2 separate regions of the Homo sapiens genome follow, and region 2 is linked to region 1. Evidence: fine-mapped QTL for protein levels in blood plasma. Region 1 holds a variant in brackets. A gene starts in the other region. All regions are shown on their reverse strands.

What was found. PIP is the posterior inclusion probability: the model's chance that the variant is causal. Protein levels are from antibody-based Olink assays in UK Biobank. Linkage for the fine-mapping came from a reference panel and not from the study's own genotypes, which makes the PIPs less certain.
Region 2: it holds the start of ADGRF5, and the variant in region 1 is fine-mapped to the plasma level of the ADGRF5 protein (UK Biobank, PIP above 0.99).

What each region holds. Positions count from the first base shown.
Region 1 is chr1:236,097,577-236,100,483 of GRCh38, reverse strand. No RefSeq gene overlaps it. Among named protein-coding and RNA genes, the nearest start is that of NID1, 34 kb to the right of the region's middle. RefSeq lists enhancers at 2,728-2,907, 2,681-2,907. The variant AG/G (reference allele first, on the strand shown) is at 1,261.
Region 2 is chr6:46,920,648-46,923,554 of GRCh38, reverse strand. It overlaps ADGRF5 (adhesion G protein-coupled receptor F5), which reads left to right and starts at 1,617. Exons shown (of 21, transcript NM_001098518.2): 1 at 1,617-1,842. LOC105375080 (a long non-coding RNA gene) reads right to left here and starts at 1,476. Exons shown (of 3, transcript XR_001744147.2): 1 at 1,120-1,476.

The sequences.
Region 1 (2,907 bases):
GAGCGAGTCGGGGAAAGGTGGTGTCTTGGGCTGGATGAGGAACCCAGGCGTGCAAGTGCATTTGGGAAACCTGTGAATTCCAGTTTTGGAAGTGCTGAATTTAGGATGCCTGGGGGACATGGATGGAAGCGGCCACTGCATGTTGAGAAGAGAGACTGGGCTGGAGTTGGAGATGGGGGATTCACAGCACATAAGGGGAGGTCTGGGCCAGCAGAGGACAGGAGGTCATTTGGAAAGGGAGCTTCCAATAGGAAGAAGACAGAACCCAGAGGGCCCAGCATGCAGAGGTGGTGGGAAGAAGGAAGCCCACAGGGGTGCGGGGGATTGTTGCAGATGGAGGAGGGAGGCCATCAGAAGGGACCCTGCCGAGGGAGAGGAGACCTCAGCCAGCACCCACTGGGTGCCTCACTTCTACTGAGCAGCCTACAAAGATAGGTGAGACCCTGGCGTGGCTCTGAAGAAACTGACAGACTCTAGGAGCTCCTGCAATTCTGTTTAATTGCTTCTTTTCTTTCTTCTCTCTTCCTTATGAACAAAGACTCTTCAGTCTTTGCTTATAAGGTAGAGCCTGTGGGAGCTCAGAGGCTCAGCCCTCTGTGTAGGGGGCAGGTCTGCTGAATGCATTACGTGGGTGGGCTGGCCAGACCAGATGTCCCGAGTTGCCTTCCAGATCCACGGAGCTTCCCCCGGGGCATCATGGCACACCGCCCCAGACAGTCGGTAGTTTGAGAAGAGAGTTAAATGCTCTGTTCGGGAAGGAAGGAAGTGTTGGAGGTCTCTAGGAATGCTATGCAGCTATATTACCATCTTTGGGATAGCAAAAGTTACATGCATTTCAAATTAATTTTAAAGCATGTCTAGCTTTGCAACAAAGCCACACATGTCTAGGGCAGGCAAGAAGCTAGATTTATGCAAATCGAATGATTAAATGTAAACACGTGTTAGAGGGAGCCTGATGGCTGGGCTCGGTGGCTCATGCCTGTAATCCCAGCACTTTAGGAGGCCAAGGCGGGTGGATCACCAGAGGTCAGGAGTTCAAGACCAGCCTGTCCAACATGATGAAACCCTGTCTCTACTGAAAATACAAAAACATTAGCCGGGCATGGTGGTGTGCACCTGTATTCCCAGCTACTTGAGAGGCTGAGGCACGAGAATCACTTGAAAGCAGGAAGTAGAAGCTGCAGTGAGCTGAGATAGTGCCACTGCACTCCAGCCTGGACAATAGAGTGAGACTCTGTCTCAAAAAAAAAAAAAAAAAAA[AG/G]CCTGATGATGAATGGGGTTGATGTGCTCAATATTTGCTCACATGGCTCAGCTGGTTAGTGTGGAGCTGCACCTCATCCACCCTACTGCCTGTCAAATTCTGCTCCCATTGTGATGAAAGACAGCCCCAATGCAAATATGTAAAAGATGCTCTCTATATACCCACTTTCTCTAGTAGGGCAACTCTGTCCAACTTCTTGCCCATATTCTGATAAGAGTGCACAGATTGTGAGCACAATTTGAACAGTGACTTTTAGCACTGTGCAAGGAAATCTTGAAATGCCAGTAACATCCAGGTTAGTTAATTTATAGGTACATAATGATGAAGAGGAAGATAGTACAAGAACAAAACACAGGTCTCTTGTGCTTAATGGGCCAGGAGTTGTTTTAAGTACTTTACGTGCAATAACTTGATCCTTACAACAACCATCACAAATGAGGAAACTGAGGCAGAGGTTAGGTAACTTGCCCAAGATTGCACAGTGAATAAGTGGGGGAGGCAGGATTTGAACCCAGGCAGGCTGCCTGCCTCAGAGTCCTTTTCTTTAGATACTATGGTAGCCACATCTCTGCATGATCTCATGTGACTTGATTAGCTTAACACAGCTTTTTCAAAAACTAAAATTTCTTTATCCTCTCCCTATTCCTAGTTTCTCCTTCCTTTCTTCCTTCCTTCCTTCCCTTCCCTCCTTCCCTTCCTTTCCTTCCTTCCCTTCCTTTCCTTCCTTCCTTCCTTCCCTTCCCTTCCTTCCTTCCCTTCCTTTCCTTCCTTCCCTTCCCTTCTTTTCCCTTCCCTTCCTTTCTTCCTTTCCCTTCCTTCCTTCCCTTCCTTTCCTTCCTTCCCTTCCCTTCCCTTCCCTTCCCTTCCCTTCTTTTCCCCTTCCCTTCCTTTCTTCCTTTCTGATGGAGTCTCATTCTTTCGCCCAGGCTGGAGTGCAGTGGCACAATCTTGACTCACTGCAGCCTCCGCCTCCCAGGTTCAAGAGATTCTCCTGCCTCAGCCTCCCAAGTAGTTGGGATTACATGTGCACACCATCACACCCAGCTAATTTTTGTATTTTTAGTAGACATGGTGGGGAGGTTTCGCCATGTTGGCCAGGCTGGACTCGAACTCCTGACCTCAAGTGATACACTTGCCTCAGCCTCCCAAAGTGCTGGGATTACAAGTGTGAGCCACCGCGCCTGGCCCTATTTTCATTTCTTTCTAATAGTTAGTGCTCTCTCTATCTCCTGCACTTGCTAATTCACATATATTCTCCCTTCAAATCTGCCTTGACAGCCTTCTGTTTTCAAGGGCCTCACAGCTACCTGGTTCCTTCTCTCAAAAGTTCCCTCTTCTGCAGGTAACTTCTCACTCACTTCCCTTGGACCACCCCTCTGTCTCTGTTAGTGTGAGGTGGGTTGTGTCCAGGGCCATCCACCAGAGGAAAGGGGAGAGAAGCCATACTTCTTGGGTCCAACGGGAGTCAAGGAGATCAAGGACCAGGTGTTGAGACCCGTATTTTGGTTTGGGAGGCTACAGGCAAGGTAGAAATGGAAGGCTGTTCTTGGCCGGGCACAATGGCTCACGCCTGTAATCCCAGCACTTTGGGAGGCTGAGGCAGGTGGATCACCGGTGAATTCCACAGACACTTAAAAGCAAAAATA
Region 2 (2,907 bases), not on the chromosome of region 1:
AGGGTGTATCCAATCTAACGTGTAGACTACAGTTGAGAATCATTATCTAGAAGTGGAATAATAACATTTTGGAGTTCATCCTCTTCTTGCCCAAATACTCTGGTCTCAAGCCTAAGTCCTGCTGGTGGTTGCTGACTTGCTACAGGCTGATAGCATGACAAGAAGGGAAGGCAGCTGGAGGGGAGAGAGGATGAACTTGGAGGCATTGGAGCCCAGGGCTCCAGAGAACAACAAACAGTTACTAAACTCTTCCTCTTCAGTTTCAGCAGAGTCTATAAACTCAGTACTATTATTATCCCACTTTCACACACAATAAAACTGAATCTCAGGGCCAGGAGCAGTGGCTCACGCCTGTAATCCCAGCACTTTGGGAGGCCGAGGCTGGGGATTACCTGAGGTCAGGAGTTTGAGACCAGCCTGGCCAACATGGAGAGACCCTGTCTCTATTAAAAATACAAAAATTAGCCAGATGTGCTGGTAGGCACCTACAGTCCCAGCTACTGGGAAAGCTGAGGCAGGAGAATCGCTTGAACCCAGGAGGCAGAGGTTGCAGTGAGCCAAGATCGCGCCACTGGACTCTAGCCTGGGAGACAGAGCGAGACTCCGTCTAAAAACAAAACAACACTGAATCTCAATAGGGTCAAGTAATGTGTACCCGGCCACATATAATTGGTGGGACTAAAGCATCAGTTCCTACAGTCTGACTCCAGAGTCCTTTCTTTGACACTATGAGGAATTCCCTGAAGATACTCTTGGGACTACCTGCATGGGACTCACCCGAAGCACTTATTTCCAATGCCGATTCCAAGCCAGGCCTCATTCATCAAACTTTCTGTGGGCAGAGCTCCAGAGTAGAGAGTCAAACAGCATTCCCCATCCGTGTTCTGACCTTGGGAAGGGTTCTCCTTGGGCCTCAGTTTCCTCTTTTGTAAAATGAGGATCAGTGAGGTCACTTCCAGTTCAAAAATGAGCTGACTATAATTCATCTTTAAACCCAGCAACCTGGATGCAGCCTGCCAACCAGGCCTTTACCATATATCTCCTTATCTTTAAATATCCATGCTATTGAGCGGTATTTTAAGTACCACTAAATTTATAGTTTGATACACAAATACTCACAGAGTTTCCCTGGAAACCTAGGAGAACTGGACGTCCCTCCAATATGGCATTTTTGAGGTACAGCCCTCCCGCGGGGGAGGACTAAGCAACTTCTCTAGGTCTCTTCTCTTCTGCGGATTCTTTTTTTCTCTGCTTTCTTGGCACTGCTAAAGACAAAGAATTCATCGATAGTCTTAATTTTCCTTCCTCTCTGAAGTTACAATCTAATTTAGTGGTCATCTTTTAAAAGTTGAAACCAGACATCCTGTACTTCTCATTAGCTCTAACCTATGTTTGGTTTGCTCTGGTTTTGCTTTTCTGATTTTTTTCTTTGGAGAAAGAAAAGTGAGAACTAGGGGCATTGGCCAAACAAGTCTGTCCACTTGGTGGAGAGGTTTCCAGATAAGAAGGATCTGAAGGACTTCCCATGGGCGTGAGGGAAATCGCACACGCCATCCGGGGAAGAGGACCAGGAAATCACTTTTTGTTTTTAAAACAGCAGCGCGGCTCTCAGGGATGACTCTGTGAGACTGGGAGGATCATAGCTGGGGGAGGCTGAGCGTGGGAGCGGTGCTGCCAGTCCTGCCTGAAAACGCGAAATGAGTCTTGCTTGGTTCTCCCTCCACTGGGCGTGAGAGCCCCTGCCCAGGAGGCCCAGGACAAATGGCCCCATAGTGGAAACTGGGAAGCTTTTAGGCATCTGATCAGAGCGGGAGCCAGCCGGGGGACCACAGTGCTGGACAGGTAACAGACATTTCTCCTACTGCGGTCTGTCATTCTGTCTCCCTTTGTAGCAAGACCTCAGGGGCTCCTAAGTCACTTCTCTTAAGACATCTTCCACTTACGATCCTCTTTGCCTGCTTTTCTTTTGCGTAGGTGTGATATGTATGTTGGGAAAGTTAAGTATGTCCAGTCAAGAGCATTGTGCATACTGTTGGTCCAGTTAATGAGACTATATTAAAGGAGATGGCGTATCAAGCAACTAGCTGGGATCCTTTAGGATTTTCTTAATAACAGACTTTTTTTTTTTCAAACAAGTTCTCTCGTCCTTAAACCAGAAAATACTATAAAAACCAGTGCATTCATGAGCTACTGAGCTGCTGCTCTTGCCAAGAGCATTTCAGGGCCAGTCGGCCATTGCTGTGGTCAGGCTGAGGAAGGAAGAGGCTGCATCCCAGTAGCAGGAGGAGGGAGCCCTGGCTATTCGCTCAGCTTCGGGAGAGTCCTTCCAAAGGACAAGGGATGACCTTAGAAATGTAAAATGTAGGCTGCAGCCTCCCACACAGGACTGAGGGGAAAGGAGTTTGTAGTCAGCATTAGGAAGGAGGTCAGTAAAAGTGCTGGGGCTTCAGGGCCAGGCCGACTTGTTTTGAAAGGAGCAACTCTATGATGTGCGGTTTGCTTAAACCATGTTTTCTCATATTTCAGAAAGCCAGGTCATGCCACTTCACTACAGCATTTTTTCTTTCATAAAGGGCTAACGTAGTTGGTTTTTCAATGTAGGTTATTTTTGAATTACACAGATAATACTTGACTATATTCTTATCGTAAAAGAATATCTCTAAATAGATTTTATTTTTATTTTTATTTTTTTGAGATGGAGTCTTGCTCTGTCGCCCAGGTTGGAGTGCAGTGGCACGATCTTGGTTCACTACAACCTCTGCCTCCCGGGTTCAAACGATCCTCCTGCCTCAACCTCCCAAGCAGCTGGGATTACAGGCACCCGCCACCACACCCTGCTAATTTTTGTATTTTTAGTAGAGATGGGGTTTCACCATGTTAGCCAGGTTGGTCTCGAACTCCTGACCT